2 separate regions of the Homo sapiens genome follow, and region 1 is linked to region 2. The links come from fine-mapping of genetic effects on gene expression. A gene starts in region 2. The other region holds a variant in brackets. All regions are shown on one strand. Distances are between the middles of the regions.

Region 1 (15,637 bases), 55 kb before region 2:
CACGGGTTGGACAAGCTTGCTTTAAAGTGATAACAGTGAATCTAAAGTCTTCTCACTCCAAAAATGGTAACTATGTTAGGTAATACATATGTTAATTAGCTAGATTTAGTCATTCCACAATGTATAAATACTTCGAAATGTCATTTTACATATGATAAATACAATTTAATCTCTCATCTAGTAATAATAATAAAGGTCTATATTTCAACTATAGTTGTACTTTTTTTTGAGAAAGAGAGAGACAGGGTCTTGTTCTGTCGCCCAGGCTGGAGTGCAGTGGCGTGATCACAGCTCATTTTAGCCTTTACCGGCCAGTCTCAAGTGATCCTCCCACCTCAGCCTCCTGATTAGCTGGGACTACAGGTGTGCATCACCATACTCAGCTATTTTTTTAATTTTTTTTTTGTGGAGTCAGGGTCTTATTATTTTGTGCAGGCTGGTCTCAAACTTCTGGCCTCAAGCAATCTCCCCACCTCAGCCTCCCAAAGTACTGGCATTATAGGCATGAGCCAGTGTGCCTGGCCCATAGTTATACTTCTTATGCAAGGGTAAGTAATTAGGAAAAAATAAAACCCACCATAATAAATTAATAAAAAGCAATAGTTAACAGAAAAAATCACACATAAAAAAAATCATGATCGATGTGCCTGTTTTCTTTTTCTTTCCTCTTGAGTATCTACACGTATGCAGTAGGTCCTGGAGAAGGTTCCACTGAGGAAACGTAATTGGCAAATAGACTAAATTGGTCAGTCTTGGTAGCACTGGGTGGCAAGTCCAAATCTCAAAGAGACCATAACATTTTCTTACATAAGGGAAGGGGGAAACGCAAACACCAGTATCTTGGTGCACATATCAAAATGAACACTACTATAAACCTTAAAGAGCACTTTAAAAAAAATATGAAAGTAGCCTGCCATTCCAGCACTTTGGGAGGCTGAGGCAGGCAGATCACCTGAGGTCAGGAGTTCCAGACCAACCCGACCAACATGGAGAAACCCCATCTCTACAAAAAAATACAGAATTAGTTGGGCATGGTGGCAAATGCCTGTAATCCCAGCTACTAGGGAGGCTGAGGCAGGAGAATCACTTGAACTTGGGAGGTGGAGGTTGAGGTGAGCTGAGATCGCACCATTGCACTCCAGCCTGGCAACAAGAGCGAAGCTCCGTCTCAAAAAATAAATAAATAAATAAATAAATAAATATGAAAGTATCTCAGAAGTAAAAAAAAATGGGCTGATGGATAAGAGCCTTAAACTATTTCAGACCCTACAAACACTGCAGAAAAGTGCTATTTATTTCCCAGTAATGTATAGCTATACCAAGCATTTTGGTTCCTATGGTAGAAGGAGAAATGAATGTCATAAAACACAACAGAATATGGTCTAGGTTGCTGAGGAAGTGATTATTTTATTTATTTTCTCTCATTGTCGTAGTCATCTTGCATTTTCATTATTCCCACTATCTCTAAAACACGCAAAGGCAAAGCCAGAAAATTTTGTACATCAGCTTTTATAGGTTTGGATAGCAGGTAACTTGAAGGTGACTGAGGTTCCCAAATTATTTGTTAAATGTATCCATTTTCTCACTGTTCCTCAAAAATAAATGAGAGATGGCAGCACTCAGTGGATTTAAAAATAAAGCAATCATTGTGTTGTTATCCTGGGTGGGTATATATTTTATTTTCTAAAAAGTTAATCAGTTAAACAGAAAAGAAACTTTTTAAGTGGTGAAAGAAAAGTGGGTAGAAACTGGTCTTGGTAGTGAGTCACTGCTAAGGTGGCAATCTGGTCCCTAAAATATGGTAGAAATGAATATTCAGGGTTGGGGGAGTGAGGGAAAGGATAGCAAAAACAAAGGTAATTCAAAGGGTAGAATAAATTCTTGTAAAACAAACATTTTTTCCTACAACGGTATGCAGGAGTTCCTACAAAAATACTGGTTTCCTTTAACTAACACAGCCATGTGAAAAAGAACCAGGTCATTTTTCTAAACTTAGAATTATCACTGTGATACAAGAAGCTGTGTATTTGCAAACTCAGTATCAAGCCAATTATGTGGTACTTAAATTTCTTTTCAATCAGGCTACAGTAAATCCACCCTTGGGAAATATAAGTAACTAAAATATAAGTGTGCTTCAAGCTATAAACACAGCTAAAGAAAAAAAAAAAAGTGAAGAGATCTGCTTCCGAGAGGCATCATTTAAATGACAACAGGGTGAAATTCTGTAATTCCAATGACCTTTAGGACTAAGAATAAAATGAAACAGTATTCTTCATACATTTTCCAAATGTTTGGACTAAATTACATAGAAATGAAGAGTGTTCAGGATGACCAGCCATGGGCAACTGGGACAGGACACAATGTCACAAGTATATCTGAGCACGGAGTTATTAAAGCAAGGATATTCAAATAAAATGAGGCCACTGGGGCTGGTAACAAACTGAATTCTTACCAAAAGGTGAAAGAACCATCACATAGAATTAATAATAGTGTATGTCCTTGCAAAAATACGACAGAATTTAAAAAAAGGAAAAGAAACCTAGCCAACTATAACCAAAATACATTAAATGTGGACATTCTCTTTACCTGAAGTAATTCCCGTCCTGCATAATTTGTTCCCAACCTACCTTTCCAGCTTGGCTTCTAAATGCCTTTGCACTATCTTTTGAGTTGCCCTGAACTATTTCATTCCCAAATAAGAGATGCGTTTCTTCCTAGGAAGGAGCAATGATTAAGTCTTCCCCAATATCTCCTGATAGGATTGGTAACTTTCTCTGCTCTCACGGAATTCTATTTGGTAATTATTTCCTCTTCCTTCTCTCAAACTTTACTGTATTCCTCTTAAAATAAGAAATTCCTCTTACTAACCCTGGATTCTACAATCTAAAATGGTCAAACGCATGATCTTTAGAATAAAGTGAAATCATTGTTAACATTGTTATTAGAAAGAATTTAAGTAGCTAATAGGAGTATACCCTGTGTGTGTCCATGATGCATAGTGTTCCTTCATAAAAATCAAGAAACTGGAATTGACTGGGATCTGCTGCTATTGTTTGTTAATTGTTTGGTTGGTTGGCTTGGTTTATAAATAAGGATGCAATGACAAAAAGTGATGAAATGACCCCTTTACTGTCATCAAACAAGTCACAGAGTAAAACAGAACTTGAATCTCTCAATTACTAGGAAACCACAGTGTTTTTTACTATTTATTTATTTTGCATTGTATAATTCACTCCCAATCATTGGATAGATGATTTCCATTCTCTACCAATTTTGTAAAATATAATGGAAAAGGAATCAGAGGATCTTACTTCTAGTAGCAGAGCACAGTCCTAAAGAAAGGCAATTATAGTATGGAAAAATAAAAAAGAGCACTGTTTCTGGAGTCAAGGCAGCCTGGCTCTATCAGGCAAGCCAGGCTATCATGAGCACTTGGGCCACCTCCCTGGATCTTCATTTCCTAAACTATCAAACAGGTAGAAGAGTCTCCAGCCCCTACCCCTGTACAATGGTTCCTGCGAAGTTCCTGATAATGTGTGTGAAATCCAGCCCTGCACCTGGCACACAGTCAACTGTTGACTTTGAAATAAAATCTTTCTCAAAGATCCGTGTGTGTGCCTGCATTTTGGGGTGGCAGTGTACTCTCTTTTTCATGTGATTTGTCCAGCAAATAATTTTGATATGGTAATATTTTTTAAATTCACTATATTCTATATGGTGCTATTTTTATTACCTCCTCAACTTGGGATCACAGGTTCCAAAATTTATGTCTACTCCAAAGGCAGCTTTTAACAGTTCAGCTTCCTGACACACTGCCAATGAGGCACAGCAAAAGAGACGTGTATTGAGCTGAAGTTTCCATTTCGAAGTCTTACAAACAGAACTTCTTCGAGTTTATTAGTGAAAATATTTAATACTATAATAAGCAAAAAAAGGAATATTGGGTTTGAATTTTGTATTACAATCATTTTCCTCCTGAAGAAAATGTTTCAGTGCTGTGAGGGGGCAGGATAAGCGTGTAAGGATATACCTTACCTACAAAGCATAGAAACCTATCACAGAGTGGTTCTTCAACAGTTTGCAAAATGATTACCTGTGATCCCTTAGATCTTAATCTTTTTTCTTAGTAATTTATATTCTAATAGACCCCAACTGGAGCATATTTCGTAAAAATAATATGGATGTCAGGAATCCAGAAACTCGTTGAAGTCACAAGCATGCTAAGTATAGCTGTGTGACTTCGAGTAATACAATTAAATACTTTGATCCTAACTTGTCTTACCCAACAAAGGTAGTTACAACAGCTCTGACTACCCCATGGTTTGGGTGTGAGACTGACATTGAATATGTACAATGCAAACTGCTTTTTTAAGCAAAGGGAGCTTTATTATTATTACTATAACTAGCACATTATAATTATAGAATCGCTATTATAATTATCCAAGCTTTAATTCCTTAAAGGGAAATAAAGCTTTCTTAAAAAATCATTTGCTTTTATCATCACCTAAGATGAAAATGTTGCTCCCCCATTCCTGAGGGGATAAGGGGATCACAGTACTGCTACCAGAAAAATCATGATCGGAAGTCAGAATCGTATGACTTCACGGCCAGTTCACTGCGTGTGAAAACACATTGCATGGCGCTAAGTTCTTATGCTTTTATGGTTTCTTTTTTATATTTGAGGATTCTCTTAAAAGGCCCACATGGAAGGACTCAGAACAAAATAAATGTCTTACTAATATGATACGCATGTAGATTGCTTTAGGGTTTTCAGAACATTTCTGCTTTGTTCCTCACATCAACCTGTGTTTCCGTTGAGATGGGAACCTGAGCACAGGGAGAGCCTCATGAAAGACCAACAAATCTGTCAGCATCCACAGATGCCTTGTAAAAGGCAATACTTTCATGTGCAGAGAGGTTGGTTGATCCCTCAAGATGCGCAATGATTTCTTTCTT[C/T]CCCCACTAGCCCAGAGCCAGTTGCTCTTTTCGTTTTTGTCAACAACATGTCCTTTTTGTTCCTCTCCCTCCAACTAGGAAGTGGCATCACTGTCAGACACAATACACCTCTTCATAAGGAAGGCAAATGAGTACGTGCCAGATGGGCTGAGGGGATTACAACATGTTTCCTGCTCCCACGGTGACGCAATGTGGCTGGTATGAGAACTTATCTTATTCAAGAAGTTAGCTTCCCCTGGCAGAATTATGAGTCACAGTTCCTGGATAGAAAGCTCTCTTACCAACAGCACTTGAGGTGGGGGCTGGGGACTCCTTGGATGGATTACAGTAAAGGTCATTCAGAAAAGTAACATGGTCAGGACTGCTGGGAAGGCACCAGCACTCATTAGCTTCTGGAACCTCCATGATCCTTCAGCAATGGTAACACAGTCACCTGTCCCTCTTCCTTCAGGATGAGGGAGGACATAAAACCACATGATGAATTACTGGCATGAACCCAAACACGTTCCATTATAAAACTGGACAGTCTGGGGGCAGGGGAAAGGATGTAAAGGGACATGTATTCAACCATTTAACACCTATGTATTGAGCATCTGCTATGTGTCTATGTGTCAGTATTATTCTGAGTGTTTGGATAACAAACAAAAGTTCCTGAACAAGTTCCTGCCCTCAGGCAGCTTAAAATCCAAGACAGAGGGAGGGAAGGAGGAAGAAAAAGAGATGGAGAGAAAGGAAAGAAGGGAGGCAGAAAAGGAGGAAGGACAGGGAGTTCAGGAAGAAAAAAAGGAAGGAAAAGGAGGAGGAAACAAGAGAAGAGGAAGAGGGAGGAGGAGGAGAGAAGAGAAAGAAGGCTAATATAATATCAGGGAATGTGAGTGTTACAAAGAAAACTAAAACAGGATGGAGGGAGAGAGAGTGACTGGTAGGGATTTTTAGTTAAGATGGTCAAGGAAGCCTCTGTGAGCAGATAGCATTCAAACATAGAACTAAATCAAATAAGAACAAACTAAAATCAAGAATTATATTTAACATATTTGAAAATCAGGACATCAAGAAACTCACCTATCAAACGCGACACCTAACCAAGCAGGACAGATGCTGGACTAAACAGCCAAGGAGCTGTCTCCTAGCGCATCCCAGCCGAATAACATCTCCGGTTATCTACAGCCATTCCTCTGTGAAGCCCCAAAGGGCCAACAAGGCTAGAAGTTACTGCTAGTTTCAGCACTGAGCTGTACTCTGTCCTACTTATACCACTCCTTTAGTACTATTTTTGGTTTCTAATACAATGTTTTATGTGGCATAGAAAAGCTGAAACGCACCCAGAAAAGATGATCAGGATGGTAGGAGAGCTCAAATCCATGTCATATGAAAAACAGTTGAAGGCATATATTGCAGAACACTGAGGTCATGGTTATATGGTAGCTAACTTAACATTGCAGAAGCCCTCTCACAAAGAAAAGGAATTAAAGCAACGATATGTAAAGTATGGTTTATGGTGTTCAGGGGAATTTTACATGAAAAGCTTTATAAAATGAGGACCTCTAGGTTCCCTTCATTACAATTAGAGAACCATTGCATTAGGTTTTGGTTGTTTTGTTTGTTTGTTTGTTTGTTTCTTTTTTTTTTTTCAGTCCTACAGTTGAACCAAGTAAATGTTTGGAAAGAGACAAATTTCAGTTTTAGATACTAAAATCAAAGAGACAAATTTCAGTTTTATGTACTAAAAACTTTCTAAGAATTTGATTAGTCCAAAAACATAGGCTGAAATGTAATGATTAATAGTCAGAGATAGAGAGTGATTCTGGGCATAATTCTGGGAAGAAGAGGAGATCTGAAAAGATGGACTTTCAAATAGCAAGTCTCTTCCATATCTAATTTCACGTGATCCAGGCCCATGATGACTGAGTTTGGTTTTCAAACTCTATAAAGGTCTTAGCTGGTTCCTCTTATAAAGCAACATCCAGAGAAAGAATGAGTCTAAAGACAGATCCTTTCTTTTTCCTATATAGAAACAATATGACAAAAACTCATTATTTTATTTAACATCTCAATGGATTATTACCACTGATAACTTTTCCACCACTGGCTCAAATTTGAAAAACAGATTGTGCTATTATCACTCCCATTTTTCCCCCATAGGACCTGAGGTAAGGGAAAAAAGCAATATTCTAGTTGGCTGAGTGTGAAGGTAATGAAAAATACCTGTGTTTAAACACAGCGGCCCACTGCCCCCTGTGTACTCTATCCCATGAAGACTAGAGACAGCAATGGTTCTTTCCATCATCAAAATTCTATTATTCTGCTTTATGATTATTTGCTACCGCAGAAGACAATGGACATGAATAACATTATGTTTATTTAAATTCATTTTCAGGAAGAGTGGACTCATTACCCTACGCATGACTTGCATTTTAATACATTGTCAAAAGCCATTCACTTACCTGAGGCATCACTTTGCAGGATTCCATAAAAGTAGAGACTCACTACACACCACAGAAGTGTCATCCTGTAACCATAAATACAAAGGTAAGGGAAATCACTTACTACTTTCAAGGGCTTAAATAATAATAACTAGCATTCATGCCTGCTGACTATAGACTAGGGACTGTTCTAAGAATTTTACAATATTAACAAATTTCATTGTCAGAACCAACCAATAAGACAGGTTTTATTTTGTTTCTGTTTTTTTGTTGTTTGTTTTTCAATTCCCATATTACATGCAGATAAAGAAGTTTAATACACAGGTTTAAATAACATAACTAAGATCCTTTGGCTAGAGACAAGTTTCAATAACATCACCACGATCCTTTGGCTAGAGAGTGGTAGAGCTATGATCAAACTCCAGCTTTCTGGCTCCACAACTCTCTTTTTCACTGAACTATAACTGCCTACTTAAAAAATATTCATCTGGATTTTTTGACCAGGATTTACATTTCTGGCAGATAAATTCAACCTTCTTACCCCTCTTTGCATTCCCTTGGTCTATTTCTAGTTGGAATACTTTACAATCCAGGTACTTTTCCCTTTTAGTGACACATAGACACATAGAAAGTCTAGAAATCCTGGATTCAGACTTTGTCTGCAATCTACCATACTGTGAATTTATATTAAGGAAAATATATAAATCTAATTCCTGCTGTTCGTGCTCTCCTCTTCTCACTGGAAGACAGAAATGATGAGGGAGGAGTCAACTTTCTATGATCTTTCGCCTTCCTATTAATAACCAGCTGAAACAGCCAACTGCTGTGAACCATACCCTTACATTTGGTTGCATGATATTTAATGCTGAAGATGTGGAGATTTGACAGCTCTGTGAAGTATTTCTTTTTCTACTACCCAAGAAATATCTGGCCACTGGTAAAACCTCTGTGGGTTATAAATACTGAAACCTGAAGATGATGCAGAAATTCCATGCTCAAGAACTCTGCTTTCTGTGTCGAAGGTAACAGCCATATAAGAATGCTTGCAGAGGTCTTGATAACTTGTCCAGCTCATATTTCCAGTAAGTGACAAAGATGCTATTTATATCCACATTAGGCTAACTACAAAGATTATTATCTCAAATAGCCTATGCCACAAGTTTCACAACCACAGGTATGCAGCAGCTTAAACAGATCAAAGAGGTATTTGATAAATAAGATGACCATATAACATCATTTAAAATGGGCCAATTTTAAGAGCATTAAATTATAACAAAAGATATAAACTACACAAGGAATCCAAGAGGTGTGGCCACCCTAAAGGACTATGCAAGTTTCCAACTCCCGTCACCTCTCTTGACCACACCTCTCCAAAAATCTCTGGTTCATGCTTCCTTTTTTAGCCTGGTTGTACACAAATCACAGGTGAGCTCGTCATATCACAAGCTGTTGTTTCATCTGATAAATTAAATGATGTTTTCTTCCCAGCACCTCTTCCTTCCAGCTCTTATATTATGACCTTGGGGAAATCTTTTTCTCTCCATCAGTCTTTCATTTATTCAATAAAACATGTATTGAGCATTTTCTCCTTCTTTTCCAAATTTTTTAGTTTGTGTGTGTGTGTGGTTATGTAGCAGATGTGTGTGTGTGTGTGTGTGTGTGTGTGTGTGTGTGTGTGTGGACGAGATATGTTTTGATACAGGCAAGCAATGTGAAATAAGCACATCATGGAAAATGGAATATCCGTCCCCTCAAGGATTTATCCTTTGAGTTTCCAAGTTGCTATGATACAGCTACGAAGCCTCTCATGGGCAAAATGTAGGGTCTTCTCTAAAGGCACTTTTCCACAGTAAAGATGAACCCCCAGCAAGACACTTTAGTATCATCAACTATGTATAGAACACACATCTAGAGACACTTAAGAGATAAAAAGAGTTACCAGACAGAAATTCTAGCACTAGGCAGGGTCTAACAGAAACTTAAAATGTGCACCAAAAAAAAAACCCCCTGCAATATGAAGTAAAAAGTGATAAAAATAGAGAGGAACAGATAAGTGTTATTGAAGATTAGCAAAGGAAAGAGGTCACTCCAGCCAAGACAATAAAAGAAGACGAAACACAAGAGGTGACATTTGAACTGGTATGGATATTTAGACTTGAGACAGAAGGAACATGTGAGAAAAAGAAACTTTCAGTGGAGAATAATGCTCAAAGGTAGTGAAAGCATAGAACACAAATGGAAAATAGTATATAAAGAACTGAGTTTTGCTCAAGCACAAGGTTTTAGAAAAAGAACTACAGAAGATTTTGTTGGAAAGCAGACAGTGGTAGAATCATAATATGGCAAAGCCTTAAATAACAGGCCAAAGGCTTGGGATTTAAAGAGCAAATAGGGAGTCACCAAAGTTTTCTGAGTAGGGGAGCAACATGACCCTCAAATTGTACTTTATAGAGCACTGCCAGGCGCGTATTAGATAGATGGCTGCTAAATTCTGTCTTGAAGTCATTTTGGCTCCTGAATCTGTTATCACAATAATTGCTATCTTCCTAGCTTTGTGACATCTACAGACTTGATCAGCATGCAACCTATATCTTCATCCAAGTCATTAATAAATGTAATTAATAATTCTGCATTAAACTTGCCAGCAAAGAGCAACTAGAGATTTCACTGCATTCAGGGAACCGTAATTTCAGCCCCACTTCTCAGCTATGCTAAAGCAATACGCCCTCCCAAATTGCTGTCAGCTATTTAAAAACCCCCACATACCTCTAGATTTTCCCAGTTTGCCTGTTTATAAGCTGCTGAATTCCTAAGGCAACATTTATAAGACATTCTAATTAGTGTGATTGAGGGCCTTAATTGATATTCCCAAGAGTAACTGGATTATGCTGAAGGCAGCAAAGAGTCAGGTCACCAAGGCAAAGCTAATCTAAAGATAACCTGTCTGCGAACACACATCCAGGGCCAGTCCTGCCCTGTGATGAATTAGAATAAAGCAGACTGAAAAGGAAACGTGATTGAACAGGCTGGTTTTGACAGATTAAAGGTACCAATGTTATTGGGAGGCGCCTGGCTGATCTGAAACCTCTCAGAGAATGCTGGGTCATTTAGCATTGTCTTGTATTCAGCCTTAGAATTTTATTATCGTAAAGAGTAATACACTTTTGGTTGTTGCGTCTTAGAGTGAGAGGGTGCTGGGTCAGAGATGGAGGAACTGTCAGAAAGCAAAGGGACGTGGGTAATAAACACAGATTCTCAGTGTCTAAATTAGAGCTTAGCTTTAGATTATTGCAATGGGGCCTAACAGACCCTGCTGTTGCTTCAGATGATTCTAACCTACATATAATATCTTCCCAGCCTTTCCTGCATTATCCGTGTAATTTACTGCATGATAATCCTCATGCTCCCTCCCTTATCTTTTGGTACATCTCTCATATTTAATCCTATTGTTTCCCAGTATATCAACTTTAATGACTATATCATTTAGCAAGAAGATTTAAAATGTACTTAGTTCTCTGTAATCGACGACAATGTTAAAGATGGGTCTTCACGTGCTCAGCACCTTAACATCTACTTCCGCATATGAAACTTTTTATCGTCTGCATTCTCTAGACTTGGTAATCATTAGCATCTCCTTATCTGCATCACTCTGACCACTGAATTCTCTCACCTAGCCCGCAGGTGACAGGCTGAAACTAGGTTTGCTGTGCCAAGGGTGGGATTTGCCATGAATCACCATTTGTTCTGCCTGCCTTCCGCTCAGCAGCACTTCACCAGATCACAGGACTGGATTTGTCCCTCAGTTTCCTGATCCCATATATAGCTCTATACTCAGAAAACACCCACTTAGGCCTTCAGCCTGGTGCTCGTCAGCACCCTCTTCCAGGAGCCTACCTTATGTCCCTGTAAAGACTTGCAGTCAGCTAGATAAACCTCCTATAACCATGAAACTGCTAAACCTGCTTCATTCTGCCATGGTTGACTGACACCCTTTTCTATGACCTGCCCACTGAAAACTACGACCATTCGCACTTTTGAAAACTTGGCCATTCACGCCAAGGAATACACCCCAGAAGGCCATCCCCATAAAAGGTCAACCCTGTAGTCAAATCACTTCCTTGAGTCCCAATCCTGCCCTAATCCCATTCAGATCTTTCCTTTTATTTTCTCTAAGTTACTGCAAAAAGTCTGAGTAGGTCTGGCATTTCTGTGGTTACCTAAGATACAATGAACAAGCCTTTGAAGAAAACAGGAAAAGCTACTAATTATTCCATTCTACACAAAAGGGATAGCATTTAGTAAGACATGAGAGTTATTTTCATCATCAGTCTTTTGTGGAGTTTACAGGGCTTTTTTTGAAAATAGGATCCTTGTGCAGAATATTTCAAATCTAATATTTATCAGCAAATGAAAGTTTTGGCAAAGTGACATGGAAGACTCTGATTTGGGGTAAAATGAAGTAAATATTCTTCATCCTGTCTTTGCAGTTATAAAACGCGGGCATATTTGATGGAACAACTGTTTGAGGATTCTAAAAGTAAAAAATAAGGCATTCTTTTCAATAGGACATTCACCAGATACACCGTATCATGTATCATAAATCAAATTTTAACAAATTTAAAAGAATTCAAAGTATGTTCTCTCCCCATAGAATTAAACTAGAAATCAATAACAGAAAGATAATAGGAAAATCTCCAAACACTTCAAAATTAAAATACATGCCTTAAAATAAAGTATATATGGGTTGAAAAGAAAGTTGTAAGGGAAATTAGAAAATATTTCTAACTTGACAAAAATAAAATAAAACATACCAAGTGTGTGGGATGCAGCTAATGTAGTGATTAGAGGATAATTTGTAGCACTAAAGGCTTATCTTAGAAAAGAAGAAAGATAGCAAGCCCATAATCTAATCTTCCACTTTAAGAAACTACAGAAAGAAGAATAAATGAAACAAGCATAATAAAGGAAATTTTATAGAGTAGAAATCAAATAATTTCAAAACAGGAAATATATACATATAGAAAAATAAAGAAACCAAAAGTTAGTTCTTTGAAAAGAACAATAAAACATAAACCTCAAGCCAGGTGATACGTTAAGTAAGGAAAAAAGGTACTATCACTAAAAATAGAAATGAATGATGGGACATGACTAGTGATCACGGAGATATTCAAATGGTAATAAGGCAATATTACAAACTCCAGGCTCATACATTCCACAACTTAGATAAAATGGACTAACATCTCAAAAACTACAAACTACTAAAGCTCAGCTAAGATGAAACAGACGACCTGAATAGTCCAATAACTATTAAAGGAATAGAAATATATTCATCTCCAGAGTCACCAGAAAGGAACACAATACTGCTGACACCATCATTTCAGCCTTACGAAACCCTAAGCAGGGAACCAGCTAAGCCACATTGTTCTTGGCCTTCTGACCCACAGAAACTGTGCAACAATAAATGGGTGCTTTTTAAGCAACTAAGTTTTTGGTAATTTGTTAAAATGGTACTAGAAAATAATAGAAGAGACATACCATATTCATGAACTGAGAAACTCAACATAGAGAAGTCAATTTTCTCCAAGATGGCCTAAAGATTTAGTTAATTCCAATCAAAATCCCAGAAAGATTTTTTCTAGCTATAGAGAAACTGATTCTGATATTTATATGAAAATAGAAAGCCCTAAGACATTGAGAAAAATTTTGAAAAAGAAGAATAAAGTTGGAGGAATCATACAAGAAACAACTCAATTTTAAAATGTTTAAGTCATAAAGAAACACTTTACCAAAACGATATGCAAAAGTCAAATAAACACATGAAGAGTCATTCAATGTCATTAGCCATCAGGGAAATGCAAATTAAAACCACAAGGAGATACCACAATACACCTTTCAGAATGACTAAAATTAAAAAATAAATACTGACAATACCAAGTGATGAAGAGGATGCAAAGCAATTGGAACTCTCATACTGGTGGAATATGAAATGTCCATATACCCTCTCTGGAAAACAGCAGTTTCTTAATAAAGTTAAACATAAACTTGCCATACAACCCAGTAATCTCACTCTTGGATATTTGTCCAAGGGAAATGAAAACTTACTTTCATACAAAAAGCTATACCTGCATGTTTGTAGAAGCCCTATTATTAATTGCCTAAAGCTGGAAACAATTCAATTGTCATTCTACAAGTGAATGGATCAACAAATTCTGTGGCATCCAAAAAAATAGAATAATACTCAGCAATACTAAGCAATGAGCATTATATATGTTGATATAATAACTTGGATGAATCTCAAAGGCATTGTGCTGAATTAAATAAACCAACCTTAATAGGATGCCTATTGTATGATTCCATTTAAATAACACTCTCAAAAAGACAGAACTGGAGTGACCGAGAACAGATCAAGGGGTTAGGGATAATGGGAGAGTATGACTGCAAAAGAAGGGCACATGAGAGTTGTTTGGAGAAACAGAACAGTTTTGTATCCTGTTTGTCACAGTGGTTACTTGATTCGATACATGAGTTAATATTCAAAGAGCTGTACTCCCAAAAAAGTTAATGTTACAGTGCATTAATTAGAAATATATTTTAAGTGGTATGATTTTTCTTTTTAAAAACTCAACAAATGATTTATGGAGCCTTTTTGACAGTTTAAAGAAAGGTGTTTTAACCTAAATATGGTTTCTATTTTCAACATTTACTTTGAAAATAACACAGCCTTGTCATTAAGCACTGAATATTCCAGAAATGCCTAGCAGTGGAGGTACATGGAGAGATCAATGAAATGCCCCAACTTTCAGCTTACCAAGCCAGTACTGCTAACCTTTACTGATATAACAGCAGAGTCAAAGTTCATAAGAAAACATTAGCACACTCCTCTTAGATACTGCCTTCTCCCTTTTTAGGAAATAGCTTCAAAGTGCTCAGCACTCTGAGAGGACATATATACATAATATACCACCTGCCATCTTTAGAAGCTTGGAATAGAATGTGAGCAGATTGATTCCCTTTTGTGCTTTAATATTTTGAATAGCAACATGCTCTGTGGGGTGAGGTAAGAAATACCATCATGAAGTCCTGTCCCTCACAAGGGAGAACTAGAACTGGGTTTTCAGTGAGTGGAAGGTGAAAGAGCAATTTAAAAAGAGCACTGAACTTGCAGTTCCTAGTTTGTTTGACTGTGTGATACTGGAGAGCCTGAGAGAAGAGGTGAGGAATATTCATACTGACCTCTTAGGAAGATCTGTAACTAGCTCACTGTCTTGATGGTTAATTCAAGACTGATGTGCTAGGGGTTCATGGATCCTTCTAAACAAGGTAAGGAATTGTTCCATTGTACCCTCTCTCCAGAGGACAATTTGATGATTAAGTATTTCTCTACTTAGGGACACTGAGGCTGGGGAATGATAGAAACTAATACAACTACCTCACCATTTGTTGAGAGGAAAGTCTTAACAATTGCTGTAAAGTGCTTAGCACCATCCAGGAACACAAATTGCTCTCAGCAAATGCTGTTTATCATCAACTCTTATTAAGTGAGATAATAGATGTGAAATAATTGAGGAACTATGGAGTAGTAGACAATGTGAGCTACCACTAATATTATTTACAAAAAAGAGCCCAAATTACGTGGTTCAAGTTGACCATTGAGTATTTGGCAAAACTTGCCATGCCCTACACTTTGTGTGTACTAGGTCCAAGTTTAGTGCTCTATTGTCAAAATATTTCAAAGAAGATAGTTTTAGTTGTCAAGTCTGGCCTTGACAAATTACAGAAAAGCCAAGATTACTGTGATAGCCTCTATGATGAAATTGGAAATTGGAAAATCGTGGCTCAGGAGGTTTCCCTTCTCTAGGCCTCATATCCTCATTTTTAAAATAGCAGTAAAAATCCCTGTGCTGACTATCTGATAGGGTAGATGGAGAGGATCAAAGGATGTGACATGTGAAAACATACATATGTGTGTGTGTGTGTATACATACATATATATATATAAAAAATGCTATATATTATGACAATTAGTGTTTATTATGAAATAAGCTAAAGTTTTTGCTTGGTTTTGTTTAAATTTGAAAGAAACTGAAGGGGTAGAGAACTTAAAGTCGATAAGGAAATGTTTTATAAATTGCTTAATTTAAATCAGAAAATGAATTACCTTTGAGATATTAAAGGGAGGGGCAAGAGTGAGGCTTCTAGGGCCTGCTGATGTTCTAGTTCTTAGGTGATGATCACATGACGATGCCTATGTAAACAAA
Region 2 (16,020 bases):
TATGTCTTCTTAGTTAGTACCCTTTCTCTTAGGAATCAAAGGTGTATTACATCCAACACAGGAGAGTAGGAAGGTTGTCTTAGAGACCATTGCTTTAAATACCCTCTTATGACAGTTGGCTCCACTAAACTCTACAGAACTGTGCTTAAGGATTGTTCTCTTTGCAAGAAAATACCTGCTTTTCAACAAAAAGGATATCCTGAAATAACCAGACAAATAAGGTCAACTTTATAACTGAAGTAAATTGTTAAATATCTCATTGGCGAGGAAACAGAGTGTGATGGGAAATGCCCTAAACTAGACATGAAAAGGTGTGAACTGTATTCCCAGAGTTGAAACATACTAACACATGACCTCTAGCAACTTTTCATTTCTCTGAGTCTCATTCCAGTTATGTTCTAAATAAATTGAGACTAGCTAAGAAGAGATATCATTTAATGAGCACCTATTCACTACATGTACTTGACATTATTCTATTGAATTTATTCGTTATACAGATTTTTAAAGTAAGCATTTTTTTTTTCCATTTTAGAACTGGATAAAACAGAAACTTCAAATGATTAAATAAACTGCTCAATATCACCCAACTACTCAGGCATGAGAGCTGGAATTTGAAATCAAGTAGGTCTGACCACAAAACCTGGGCTCCTTCCTCTATTAATATTCTTGCCATGTCCTCCCAGGGCTATTGTGAGTAACAAGGAGTATCATATATACAGAATGCACTTTGGAAATTTTAAAGTTCTATACATATATATGGTTTTGGTAACAAGTAATAATCTGTATGAAGATATGGGTATAATTGACCAACCTTTCTTTGAAGAATCAGAACCAAAGGAATTAGCTTTTAATCTCCCTTCCATCCTCATGATCTGACCTTATTTTGAACATTTTCCTTTTCCCCCACAAGGCCCCTGTCTCTCAGGCACACATTCAGTCATATCCCAGCCAGCTCACCACAATGCATGTACATGGAACAAGCTGATAGAAGCAGGTGATCCCATCCTTTACTAATGCTTGGTGCGGGAGGTACTTAAGTGGGCACCACTGGGCTCTTATCTTCCATCAAGATGTATCACACTCTGTTCTCAAGCACTTACCAATACTGCATACAAATGCTATGGCCTGTGAAGGAGGCAGCCAACTACAAATGCTGGACACTCAATTTAAGGACGCATGGCAAAGCCAGTAGATAGTAGTAAATTATTGCATGAAGTTCATCAGAATAAAATCAATTGTCATGAGAAGGGTTAAGGGTGTGGGAGGGAATCCATTTAACTTTAAAATACCAATAATACAGGAAGACTAGTGTGGGCATGTGAATGTCTGTGTGTTCGTGTTTAAATAAGGCAAGTTTGTGTCCAGAAAGGTTTGCATTTAGCAGCATCTCTGTACAATCCAAAAGAAATATATGAGAATTTTGTTTGTTTTCTGATACTAGATGAAAAATGTAAGGTTGCTCGACTGACCTAAGAGAGCAAGGATAGAAGGCTTAGAATAATCTGTAACACAGCTGCAACTTCCAACTTTGTCTTCTTGTCTTTCTGCCTCTCACCCATTTCAAGACCCTCTTTGTCAATAAAGGATGTCTCAGATCAGGGCAGTTCACAGGCCTGAGGTTTGACCTAAAAACTAGTAGGAAATTCATATCACCGAGAAACATCAATTTTACATTTCGAGCTAAGCATCCATGATCCACATCACATATGGACAACATTCAGAAAATTCTTATTATAAAAGAGTTGCTCAAATTCAAAAGAAGAAAGACACCACATTTACAGATTTTTTTAAAATGCCTCTGTAAGATGGTATGAAATCACCTTTCTGAAAACCCACTGTCTGCAAGGTTACTATGTAACAATATTTACAATAGTTGCCATTGGTTTTGAACCAACCAGATGCCAGGCCAGGCACTGTGCTAAACATGCTACTTGAATGATCCCATTTCATCCTTCCAACTACCCAAAGGGCTCATTGTGACCATTATAAATCTCCATTTTTTGGCTGGAAAAAAAAAAAAGGAAGAAAGAAAGAAAAGAAAAACCCAGTATCGGAAAGGTGAGATAACTTGCCCAAGTTCACACTGCTAATACATGGAAGAGCTGGAGTCAAAACTCAAGTCCTCTTTCTCATCCAGTAGCTAAACCAGGGATCTGTACAGCAGAGCAGCAGAATGCTTCGCGTGGCGCCCTGGTTCACAATTTCACAACCAGAAGGTGGAGGGAAGACAGGCTGTGGGCTAGCTCTTAAAGGAAACAGCCGAAGTTTGCTTTTATGTTTGTGATTTTCTCTTTAACTCAGCTTCCTTGCTCCCTCTCAGTATTTAGAAGAGGGAAGGGGCTCTATGGTTCCATGAAGTCAGCTCTTCCCAAGTGAGGGGCACCCTGTGCCCCACAGGGCCACTAGCTCCGCTTCCTCCGGGGCTGGGAAGAAACAGTACCATAGGAGGTCACTGGCGCCCGGGCCTCGCTCCTCTCTCCCCGCGCTCCTCCAGAAGCTGGTCCGACACCCTCTGAAGGGGCATCTTTCTGAGAAAGCAGGTCAGGGGAAGAGGGAGTGAGGCTGCAAGCAGCATTTTCCCAGGCTGTCACAGCTCTGCGCTGAGAGCGACGTGATACCGAGTGGGCGTGCTGGGACACACCGCTTCCTTCTGTCCTCGGCGCTTCCAGCAGCGGTCTGGAGAAACCAAGGAGGAGATGGGGGCGGGGGGTGGTAGCGGGGAGGGGGCGGTGAGGAGGAAAACAAGGGTAGACCCCTCAAAGGGCTGAGGATGGGGGCGGCAACGAGCAGACGTCCCACAACCGCGTTACTTAAATCCCTGCAAAGCAAAGATGGGTCTCTGAACGTTTGGGTTCGAATCCGGGCTCCAGTCCTAACTAGCAGTATGACCTATCCCAGCCGCTGCCTCGTTCTGTGCCTCAGTTTCCTCTTCTGTAAAGTAGGAGGGTTTAACGATAGGATCTCTAAGAATCCGTCTACCCTGAGATTCTGCGGCTTGGTGACTTCTGAGCCCTCACGGCGGCGCGAGACTCACCTTTCTTGGGAAGCTGAGAGGGCGCAGCAAAAGCAGCCGGGATGGGTGCAGTGTCGCCGGGCACTGCTTCCTTCCGCGCCTCTGGCCAAAGCGGACCCCGGAGACCTGGATCCCGGCAGTCTTCCCCAGTGAGCCTCTTACTTTCCGCCGCACTTTCTTTTCCCCCTTTGGGGCTCCTCCCCCGGAGCGGCGCGATTGGCCACGGCCTCACGGCTCAGGCTCCACCCGCCGCCTTGGCTCGCGATCCACCGGCGCTCTGGGCTTCCAGGAGCTGCGGCCGCGGGGCGGCGTCCTGGACGGTCCCGCCCGCCGCCAGGAGGCGCGGCGCCGGGCCCGCCTGCGGACGGATGCAAGGCTGCGCTCGGCCCCTTCGGCTCCCTGCCACCGCCTGTGCGGGCTTGAGCGCGCGGGGAAAGGAGAGGGTTAGTCCTGCAGCGCAGCTCGGCACGCTGCCAGGCGCTGTGGGAAGCTACGCCCCTCACTACACACCGAGGCGCACACATGCGCTCATTGCAAGATCGTGCTCTCGCAGTTGAGATCGGTGCCACCCTGCCCTTTCTTCCTGTCTCGACGTATTTAGCAATCATGCTGCAAGGCCTTGAATCAATTCAGACTGCACGATTTTCGCAACCACCCTGTGCCGGCACAGAGCGCGGCAGGATGTAGATGCGATCTCCGCAGTCCTGAGCTCTTGCTGTCTTGAACTGACATTCATATGAGCAAGCAACAGGACATGACAGCAAGACTAAATCTGTATTGTCCACTGGTAATATACCCATTGCCTAGCACAGTGCCTGGCACAAAGTAGGCACTCAATACATGTATGGGGAACGAATAAAAGAACTAATAGGTTACATAGAAGGAAATAATCTCAAAACAAATATTTGCCTTCATTCATTTCCATTTCCCCAAGTTTTTGCAAGAGCCTTCCTTCAGCTGCCCTCTGCCACTGTAGATGGTAGTCTGTAATATATCCCGGGAAGCGTTATAAAGGCTTTCATTAAGTCATCTCTCTTGTTCAGGCACCTTCTGCTGTGTTCCTACTGCTAGTGCCTCATGATTTTTCCTGACTGGCAAGGCCCTTCATGACCTGTCCCCATTTCTGAAACCCCCTAACCAAAGCCACCTACCAGACTGACGAGTCTTCGCACATCTTCTTGCTCATCACATCTTCTTTTCTCCTCCTCCTACCTAACTGAATCCTACTAATTTATTTTCAAGAATCAAGATTCAGAGAAAGCATTTAAGGAAAAGGAGAAAAAAGATGTGAAATAAGAAAAGGGCCCAGGTGAGTGGGAAGGAAATGAAACCAGCAGGTGCCCGTGCTGCTAAAGGTGCACAGCAGTACGAAACTCAGAGGCTGCCCCTGCCCTGGCGGAGCTTCAGTTCCTAAGGTGAAATATCAGTGTAATTGGAGCCATAGAAATGTTCATGATACTTTACTTCTTGACATCACTTATGAAAATTAATTGCTCAAAATTTTTATTTATCTCAGGATACCTGGGACCCAGCACCTGCTCACAACATTGTCACTGAACCAAAGAGAAAATAATCCAAAAGAATTTAAAATGTTACCTGTATGAAGCAACAATAAAACATTTTCTGATTTATTATTCATTCCTTAAATATATTCTGGGCACAGACTTTTATATATATATAGTACACTGAAGCATTTACACAGTGCTTACAAAATAAAAAGGTGCAATCATAAGGACTTTGTGTATATTAATTCAGGTAACCCTCAATACAACCTGGAGGGTGCTATTATTATCTCCAGTTCATAAAGGAGATAAAGGGAATTTAAATAACTTGACCAAGGCTACAGGCCTACAAGTGGAGAATACAAAATGAGACTAGAGACACTCGACGTTCATGCTCTCAGCCGCTACTCAGTCTCATGTACTACCTAGAAGCCAAACAGATGCTAGTAATTCAGAATTGAACCAGATGTATATTCCCGGACATTGAAGGGCTACTCATAGCTTAAGGAAGATAACATTAAGATGAATAATCATATAGACAAATATTCATAGTATATTGTAGTTTGAACACAATATAAATGGTTGGAAATGAAAATGATTAGTTAACCAACGCTGTCTACGCACAGAATAAAATATTTGCATCATAACTATCATATTATGGAAATATGTCTACAAAGAAAAAGGCTTACAAAATAAGGTTGAGTAAAAGTTGTGGAGAGATGAACACCAATTGAAAGGAATGTGAAAAAATGTTGATATGTTAGGATTACAGAAATAGAAACATCTCTTTTTCCTTTTACATTTAAGTGAAATAAACCAAGCACAGAAAGACAAATTTTGCAAATTCTCACTCACACGTGGGAGCTAAAAATTAAACAAAGGAACTGAGATATGAGAGTAGAATGATGGTTACCAGAGGCTGGGAAGAGTAGCAGAGGCAAGGGAGTTGTGGGGAAGGGAGGATGGTTAACGGTTGCAAAAATATAATTAGCTGGAATGTATAAGACCCAGCACTTGATAGCACAACAGAGTGACTACAGTCAACAATAATTAATTATGCATTTTAAAATAAGTAAGAGTGAAATTGGAATGTTCCTCAAAGAAGTGACAAATGGTCAAGGTGATGACACCCTGTTGTCATTACCCTGATGTGATTATTACACATTGTATGCATGTATCAAAACATCACATGTCACCCATACATATATACACCTATTATGTACCCGTAATAATTAAAAATGAAAAAATGTTATGCTAACAATTGAGAAAAATATTTTAAAGCTATACCCATTAAATATCCATCACATACTAAACATTTGATGAATAATAGTTGCCTAAATGAATAAATGAAGCTACAAATTCATTGATGTCAGTGACTAATACTGCTGGATGTATAGAAGATGCACAATAAAATATTTTGCAATTGATTGATGTATTTGGAAAGGTATTATTATTCTCTTCTTCTCCCAGCTTTTACCCTCCACCTTTTTTTTAGGTTATCTTTAATTATCTTGCTGTAGCTGTAAGACGCATCAGGAGTTTGCTAGTCTCTTGAACCCAATCCATTCAGACATTTATCTCTACCACTCCACAGTCAGCATCTGTAATGATCTTCACTTTGCCAAATGTGGTGATCAATTCTCTGTCTTCATTGTACATGTATCAGCAGCATTAGACACAGATAATCTGTTGCTCTTTCACACTCTCTCGTACTTGACTCTTTGTTTTTCATGTATTTCATCTGCTGTTCCTTATCAGATTCTTATTGAATCCTCTACCTCTTCATGATCTCTGAAGGTTCCAGTGTCCTAGAGCTCAATCCTTGAAGTGGTTATATTCTCTACCTAGGGGAACTCAGACAGACACATGGCCTTCTAAAATATCAATATGATAATAACTTGCAAATCTAAATCTAAAGCCCAAACCAGACTTTGTATACCATATTACCTCCTTCATATCTCCTTCTTGGATGTTTTAAATACATCTCAAACTTTACATGTTCAAATTCAAACTTTATTTCTGCCCCACACCAAACCAGAGCTTTGTAAGCAACACTGTCTTTTACCCAGTTGCTCAGGTCAAAAAGTTGGAGTTATCACTCTCTCTCATTGCCTGTACACATTATATCCACAAACCTTCTGCTTCCTCTACATTCAAAACACATCTCAAATCCAACCACGCTATTCCTCTTCTCCATCACAACCACCATGGTTCAAGTCATTGCCATCTCTCCCCTCACTGGTGTCCCTGCTTAAACTCTTACCCAAAGAGTCTATTGCCCTTACTTCAGAGACCCTTATAAATGAAAATAGAATAAATACAGGCTAGTGATTGAGGTCAAGGAATCTGAAGCCCGACTACCTGGGATCAAGTTTACATAATGTGGTCAAGTTACTTAATTTCTTTTTTTCACAGTTTTATTCTCTGAAAAATATGAATAACAATGACAATAATATACATTATAGTGCTGTTTTTAAATTAAATGAGATTATATAAGTAAAACACTTGGCATGGGGATTGGCATGTAGAAATGCAATATAAATATTCATTATTCTTTTACAAGAAATATGTCATTCTCTGCTTTCAAATAGTGATTTCTTATCATGATCAGATAAATTTCCATAGTCATTTATGGCCTAAAAGTCCTTGTGTGGCCCTACATGATCCAGCACTGAGTTGCTTCTTTCAATCTCCCATAGCATGCTCCTTGCTGTCGACCAAACACACTAACATGTTCCCATACTAGGGTGTTTGCACCTGCTGTTCCCCCTTGCTGGACCGCTGTTCCCCTGTTGCTTGTTCTCTCCTCTTACTCACATCTTCATTAATGTCCCTGCTCCACTATAACCTTCCCAGCAAAGCTTTTCCTGACAACCAAGTCAAATAATACATTACGTAACATTTTAATTAATTTACTTATTGAATGCTGTTTTCACTAGAATGCTAACTCCGGGAGGGTAATATAATGTTTCCCTGGCAAACAGACAATATTTTGCACGTAGTACTCATTGAATAAACATTTGTTGAGTTACAATTCAGTCCAAAACTCTCATGGTTAAACTTTGATACAAAGATATTAAGTGACTTATATATCGCCCTCTTCCTTTGATTTACATTTTTTTGGGAGATCAGAATCATTGGAAGACAAAAACTAAAACAACAAATTATATATATATATATGTGTGTGTGTGTGTGTGTGTCTATATATATACGTATATATGTTTAATATATATACATATATATACGTATATATATATACACGTATATATATGTGTATATATTTGGCTGGGTACAGAGTAAAGAAAGCACATTATAGAGACATTTTATTTTGAGCTTTTGGAAGGAAGGTGAAGGGCAGGAGCCAAGAGAAAAGAAAAAAAAAGTGAAAAAAGGAAAAAGTAATTATATCACCTTCCAAACCCTTTTACGTTTCCACCTTTTATACCCCTCAGCTCTTTTCTCCTCCATCCCCAGCTGACCCTTGTACCTGTTCTCTGGGTGTTCACATTTCCCCTCGCAGCACTTAGTTATGCCTGCCCCCACTTCCTCTGTGGTGCCCTGGGTTTCCAAGTCAGGTATCCCTCTTCCTTTTTATTGCATCTGTTTCTGACAAAAGCCTCTCTTCCTTCAGTTTGATTCGGCTAGGTGTAGGGAAATAAGCAGATTAAACAGTAATGATAAGGTGTTGATTACTAAGAGCTCAACTCTACCTTGTTGAAGAGATATGCTAATTTGTTCAAACACATATACCCAACTATTGAAATTCAAGTCGTTTGGAAGAGGAAATTGGAAATTTGACTGTGCAGTGGGAGGCTTCACTCATTTCTTTTCTTTTCCTTTTTTGTTTTTTTTTAGACTGAGTCTCGCTCTGTCGCCCAGGCTAGAGTGCAGTGGTGTGATCTTGGCTCACTGCAACCTGCGCTTCCCAGGTTCAAGTGATTCTCCTCCCTCAGCCTCCAGAGTACCTGGGACTACAGGTGCCCACCACCACTCCCAGCTAATTTTTCTATTTTTAGTAGAGATGAGGTTTCACCATGTTGGCCAGGCTGGTCTCGAATTCCTGACATCAGGTGATCCACCCACCTCGGCCTCTCAAAGTGCTGGGATTACAGGCGTGAGCCACCGCGCCTAGCCAGCTTCACTCATTTCTATCCTTCAGACTCACTACCTGGGTTACATGCAGTCCTGAAAGACAAGAGGGGAAAGGGGAACTTCTGGAACCCTTCCAATCTCTATTTATCTGCATAGGGTTGAAGCTGACTCCCATCACAGGGCACTACTCCCACGTGGAGGTGTCAAAGAGAAACACTGCCTGACGTTAGTTAAAGCCATGAAAACAGATTTTATTTAGTAACTATTGATAGCAGAGGAAACAGCTGAGCTTCATTCCTATTTGTGTAGAGGTTGTTTGGCCTTTTAAATGGAGAATGAGGGAGGTAGCAGAGCAGGATCTCAGTAGAGCCTGAGAAGTGAAATATTACTAAGGGTTTGATCAGTGCAAATGACTAGCTGTGCTAACTGTGACTGCTGCCTGACACTTATTGAAGTTAGAATTCTATTCTCCCACAGAGATTGGGAGACAGAGGCCCCATCTTTCCTGGTTATTACATTTAAAGGAATGGTGCACAGGTCCCTGAGAGAGACACTACTGAGTTGTAAAATATAAGCATTCACAAAAGTAAGCATTTCTAAGTTGATTCTCTAAGAAGAGGAGGTCAAGAGCCTATAATCAGGTATTGGCTAGAGCAAACAGCAACCTCCTGGGAGAGTTGAGCTTTCTCAAGCAGGCGTTTTAATATGGAGCTGGGGTCGTCCTAGGGACATGACCTCATGCTGCTAGAAGCTATGCTAGAGTTTGGTCAAATCATTTAGTGCAGGGCTTTGGATAAAGTTAATATGTTCTTCCTGGCTAACACCGTGAAACCCCGTCTCTACTAAAAATACAAAAAATTAGCCGGGCGTGGTGGCGGGCGACTGTAGTCCCAGCTACTCGGGAGGCTGAGGCAGGAGAATGGCGTGAACCCGGGAGGCGGAGCTTGCAGTGAGCCTAGATCGCGCCACTGCACTCCAGCCTGGGCGACAGAGCCAGACTCCGTCTCAAAAAAAAAAAAAGTTAATATGTTCTGAGAGTTCTGCAGTTCTCAGAGGTCAGTAGATACTTGTAGTAGCAGAATCAGAATCCTATTGTCTGAGTTGCTTCTCCTTTAATGTCTGACTTCCTGGTGATGCTCCTCCAGTGCCACCACAGGGCAATATCAGTGAAGGTGACAGGCAAAGGCATGTTTTCCAAAAGACAGCCTGTCTTCCTGGCCTATGGCCTAAAGCTCCTGGAGGCTGTTAGAAAGGACCTACTTTTCTTTCCTCGTTTTTCTTCTTCCAAACAGAAGCTTTGAAGCAAAGGTCAGGATTTTAATAAAGTCTTGGAGGATGGTTATTATGCATTATTGACACTTTACTACATCAGGAAATTCAAAGGCAAGAACTTTGCATGCAAAAAGGGAAACTTGCCTTTATGGTTCTAACTTGGCCTTGTAAGTAGTTAAGACATTTATCAGCTTCTAGCCTCCAACATCTGATCTAAATGGAAAGAATGTTCTTCATAGAGATACTATCACCTGTATTATTCCATAAGCTAAACCACTACAGTATTTAAGGGCAGACCTAATCTAAATTGGTCACAATCTGGTGAATAACAGCCAATTGGTGCCAGTTAAAATTGTGCTAATATGTGCTTGTTCTCACAGCAGGATGAGTGAACTGTGCCATTCAGTTCTATTTTTTTTGTGCAGCAACAGGAAGACTGAATGATCCACTAGCAGAGAGGCACTTATATTATTCACCTTTGGAGAATAATTTTCAAGTACTCATATGAGATGCAGAGACTTTGTATGATATTCTTTCTCTGCCACCAACATTGAGAAATTTATTTTATCTTTTATTCATACATCTTTTCAAACGTGTTGAACATTTGCTCTACATGGACAGTGTGAGCATTGCTGAGATACAGTAGCCACGGTTCCTTCATTATAGGCCAGAAGAGGAGAGAAGAGAAGAAGATAAAATGTCTACATGGTTGTCAATACAAGGTTGAAATAATATTTCCTCTTCATTGAGCAATTGGCATTGAGCATGTGACAAGCCCTTTAAACATCAATTACTTCTAAACCTCACAATATCCTTAAAAAGTAGAAATTGTTTCTCTACTTTTAGCAATGAGAAAATGGAGTCAGAGAAGCTGATTTATCTAAGGCCACACCACTAGTTAATGTTAAAGCCAGGAGCAAATCCCAGGTCTAACAGAGTCTAAAGGCCATACTTTTCCTATGCTACACTAAGGTCAGTAAGAAAGTTAAAATATAGTAACATCGGGGTATTGAGGAAGGAGTATTCTTTTTTTTGAGGGAGTCTTGCTCTGTCGCCCAGGCTGGAGTGGAATGCCGTGATCTCGGCTCACTGCAACCTCCACCTCCTGGGTTCAAGCAATCCTCCTTCTTCAGCCTCCCTAGTAGGTGGGATTACAGGTGCCTGCCATCATGCCTGGCTAATTTTGTATTTTTAGGAGAGACGGGGTTCACCATGTTGGCCAGGCTGGTCTCTAACTCCTGACCTCAGGTGATTTGTCCAACTCGGCCTCCCAAAGTGCTGGGATTACAGCTGTGAGCCACCACGCCCGGCCAGAAGGAGTACTTCTATTTAGAGCGTATCAAGGAAAGAAAGAGAGAGGGTATCACTAGAAGAAATTAGAAGGAGAGATCGAATTAAGGTTTATGGTGACCAAGGAGGAAGGTGTGAGACGTAATGGGGCAGGGGAAGAGTATGCATCCATTCATCCACTCAGGTACTATTTGTTATAAAAATAAAATAACTGCAGAATAATGTGGTGAGTGCTTTATGAAAGATGGTATGGTACTCCATGTAAGCCCATTGGAAGGTGTTTCACACACCACTGAGAGGAGGGAAGAGTGAAGCAGGGTCAATTTTCCTACTCTAACCAGAGAACATGTGGCAGATGTTGGAAGAAATGGTTAGAAAACTATACTTGAATCAGGCATCGGAAGAAAAGGGGTGGGGTGAGGGAAGATATTACTTATGCTACTCAAAAAGCAAAACTGTAGCTTATCTATTTGCCTTTGTGTTCCAGAATGGTGTTTGACAGAAAGAATGCTTGAACAAACAAATGAGAACAAATAAATGAGTTACTGATTTCTGCTGAGAGACAGGTGCTTTTTAAGTCTGTGCTTTTTGTTTAACCAATATTATGTTATCACACCATAGGATCTTCATGAACTGAGTATTTATTTTTTCTATTTAGGAGATATAGAAAAATCTGAGGCTCCAGAAGGTAATATGGCTTGCCCAACATTGCAGAGCTAGGAATTCAGAAAACTGGATTTTAAAGTGTGACAACATTAAATTATTTGACGTGGTTGTCAGGTATAATTTCTTGTAATTACTTGCCACTCTCTGCCTTGTTCTAAATGACAAAGTAAGGCAGTGCTATGTTATTATTATTTTTTATTATATTAAATCAACATTTTATTGAGGTGTAACATGAATACATAAAACTGCACTAATCATATATGTAGAGCTTGATGCCTTTTAACAAAGGAAGTACAACCATGTAACTAGCATTCAGATCAAGAAAATCATACTGCTACAGGCTGCATACTTTTGACTTAATATAATAGTCAATATCTTTATTCCTGTTGGCATTAAATACTTCCCCTTGTAGCTTTTATTCATGCACGCACTATTCCTGGAAACTCATGAGCTATTGAGTCATAACTTGCCTAGAAAATGAGCTTGTTGGTGAATGATAGCTTCTCTTTGGGGAACATGTGTGCTCCCTCAACTGAGAGGTTGTCTTTATTAAGTAAGAGCACTTGAGGTAAACCTTGAGATTATTGGGCCTGAGGCAAATTTGGCTGACTGAATTCCAAGCAGCAAAAGAAAAGCAGCAGTGAGACTTCTGCATCGAATTTTTAAGATGATCTATAATTAACATACTAGTTTGTAATATATTTATAATTGTAACCTGTAAAAGTTAAAATAGCCATTCAGATAGCCCAGATATAGAACCCTGGAGATGGTAAATAGGGGTGGAGATATAGAGAACAAAGGGGTCTGTCTAACTGCTAATTCACCTAACTGCTGCTAGATGGCCTCAGTTCCAGTCTAGGTTTGGCTGCAGAATCCCTGTCTGTTCTCGACACAATCATTTCTGCTTTCTGAGCTTCTGCTTCCTAACCTTTAAAATGGTCTGAACTGCAGTATTGTCCTAGAACAGTAGTCATCAGCCGTTGCTAAACATCCAAGTCACCTCTGTTTTTCAAATTTCCTTTTATAGGTTTTTGTATGGTTAGTTTTGTATTTAATAATAGAGGTGCCCAATCCCTATCATGACTCTTAAAACTGAAATTTGATAGAGGGAATGACTAGACTTGCTGATTCCTTAGTGGTCTTCCAGGATGATATACTTTGAATATTTTTCCCCACCCAAATTTCATGTTGAATTTGTATTCCTCAATGCTGGAGGTCGGGTCTGATGGGAGGTGTTTGAATCATGGAGTCAGATCCCTCATAGCTTGGTGCTGTCTTTGTGATAGTGAGTTCTAGTGAGATCTGGTTATTCAAGAGTGTGTGGCACCTCCGTCCCCACTACCCCCTCCCCACTCTCTCCCTCTCCTGCTTTCACCCTGTGGGGTACCTGTTCCCCATTCACTTTCCTCCATGACTGTAAGCTTCCGGAGGTCCTCACCAGGAGCCAACCAGGTGCTGATGACATGCTTTTACAGCCTGCAGAACCATGATCCAATTAAACCTCTTTTCTTATAAATTACCCAGTCTCAGGTATTGCTTTACAACAATGCAAGAACGGCCTAATACACAGGACAATCTTTCTAAGATCAGTTGGGCACAGTGGCTCACGCCTGTAGTCCCAGCTACTTGGGTGCCTGAGGCTCAAGAATCGCTTGAACCCGGGAGGCAGAGGTTGGAGTAAGACAAGATCATGCCACTGCACTGTAGCCTGGGTAACAGAGTAAGACCTTGTCTCAAATAAATAAAGAAAGAAAATTTTAAAAATGTATTTATCAGAGAGAATAATGCCACAATTTTTGTCACAAGAGGTGATGAAATTTAAAATACATTTGATAAAACTTGCACATATATAGTTATTGAATATAACCAAAATCCCACAGGAAAGAACAATTAAGAGATGACTGTGTTTGTGTATACTTATTAGCCTCAAGCGAACTATATATTCCTTCCTTTTTCAGACCTGCTTTTACATTCAAATAGGCTACTATATGAAAATAAAGATTAAAACAATTCAGTTTTTAAAACAGTAAATGCAAAATCCTGTATTGTGTTCCGCAGGAAATGCAACGTACACTTAAAAAGATCAATTTCTAAAACGAAAGCTATGACAACTATAGACATTCACATTTATACTGTGGAATACAACACGATTTGCAGCTGAGAAATCAAGGAAAGGTTTCATGGAGTTGATATTTAGGATCAGTATCGAGAGACAGATAGGATTTTTCTAGAAGAGAGGAAGTTGTGAGTCACTTAGACAGTAGAAACAACAGGGGTATAGGCAAAGTGCATGAATTTGCACAGAAAGGGAACAGAAAATGGTCTAGTTTTTTTGACTGAATCTCAATTCCTGGGAGTAGGTATAGATAAGGTAGGAAAGACTGATTGCAGGCTAGTTATGAGGGGCCTGGCTATGTTAAAGAATTGTTTTGTTTTCTGAAACCATGAGAGGTTCTTGAAAGTTGATAAGGGAGAGTTGCTTAAGGTCACACGGGTAATAAGAACTAGAAGAGTTGGACTGGAAATCAGATTGTATAAAGTATAAAGTTCTTTGTATCTCCCCCAACAACCCAAACCTGGGTGGTAGGGTCATGGAAGAATACCCATGCCAAATACACCACACTTAAAGATCCTTAGACTTTTCTATAATAGCCTACATGTTTGGAAGTGGGATTCTTTAGAAGTAAAAGACAGAAATGACATTTATAATAAATTTTTCCCTCGTGGCTTCAAGGCCTCCTTCAGGCTAGAGGTCAACAGTTACCTATCAATGCAGAACAGCAGCATGCAGTAGGTTGGCATCGAGAAGCACAGAAGGGGACTGCATTAGAAACTGCGCAGGGAATTTTAAATTGGCCGAATGTAATTACCCATGTTGGAATTTGGCCAAGGTCTCAAGATTTAATATCACCACTCATTCTGGTCCCTGTAAAGACCCTTCATGGTCACAGACCTTAAGGTTATTATTCCTTTAAAATTCATGGGACAGCATTTCTCAGCCTTTCCCCCAACTGAAGCCAGGACCCTTTACTTTCTTTACTTGGCCATGTTGCTTCCAATATGGCTTTGATTGCTGCTGCTGACACCAAGACACTTTCACTGCCCCGAAGACCATTTTATTTATTGGTGCTATGTTTCCAAAAGATGCATTTTCCTCCGCCAATATGTTCAGCTGGCCACATAATAGCGTAGACTGACATTTTGGTGACCATTCAGGAGAGCAGCAGATTGTGTAAATTTCACAGCTCCCGTATGTCAATTCTGAGGTTCCTTGAAAAAGCTGTACAGGTTGACCTTGCTTTAAAAAAATGAATCATAGAAATACAGCAGGAGGAACAATCTAGTACCACACTTCAAAAGTTAGAAATATGTAATTAATGATTATGCACATGCACATATAGCTTTATGTGATAAAAACTAAAATATAACTAAAATTAAAAATATGCACAGAGGCAATATTGCAGTATATTTGTTATGTAATGAGACAAATATCCAAATTCTAATAATTAAATACACAAGTATGTGATCAAACCATGAATAAATAAGGGAAGGTCGTCACACCAAAAACACATGGAACAGTATTCAATTTTAAAATTGTGCCAGTAATCAAAGACATGCAAATGTAGATAAGGGAGGACATTTTTACATGTGTCATTGAAAAAAATTAAAATTAATTTCACTAATACAATTCTGGGATTACAGGTACACTGTTACATTTCCATAATGCTAAAGTTATTAGACACAATTCTTTGAAGAAGCAATTTGGCAAATAAGTCAAGATCTTCAAAACATATTTTTCAAACCAGAAATTACAATCCTGGCAATGTACTTAAAATAATAATTCAAACCAAGAGGAAAATGTATTAACATAGATATTCACTGCAAAAACAATGTTGACCAGGTGCCAATAACCAGATATATAAAAACTCCCATAACTCAACAGCACAAATACAAATAACTTGATTAAACAATGGGCAAAGGACTTGAACAGACTTAGTGTTTTCAAAAAAACCAACCAACCAAACAAACAAAAAAAACATGGCAATAGCCAATAAGCATGTGAAAAGAAGCTCAATATCATGAATCATTAAGGAAATGCAAATTAAAAACATAATGAGACACTACTTCATACTCAATACAATGGTTAATATTTGAAAAATAAAATAAAAAGAAATAAAATAACAA

Evidence for each region.
Region 1: its variant is fine-mapped to the expression of IL1RAP in whole blood (INTERVAL, PIP above 0.99).

What each region holds. Positions count from the first base shown.
Region 1 is chr3:190,556,117-190,571,753 of GRCh38, reverse strand. IL1RAP (interleukin 1 receptor accessory protein) reads right to left here. Exons shown (of 12, transcript NM_002182.4): 2 at 15,538-15,624; 3 at 7,401-7,465. The coding sequence starts at 7,464. Among named protein-coding and RNA genes, the nearest start is that of IL1RAP, 50 kb to the right of the region's middle. RefSeq lists an enhancer at 4,698-5,897. The variant C/T (reference allele first, on the strand shown) is at 4,957.
Region 2 is chr3:190,501,234-190,517,253 of GRCh38, reverse strand. It overlaps IL1RAP (interleukin 1 receptor accessory protein), which reads right to left and starts at 3,169. Exons shown (of 12, transcript NM_002182.4): 1 at 3,035-3,169. RefSeq lists enhancers at 1,979-2,478, 2,479-2,980, 3,733-3,822 and silencers at 3,233-3,582, 12,120-12,414.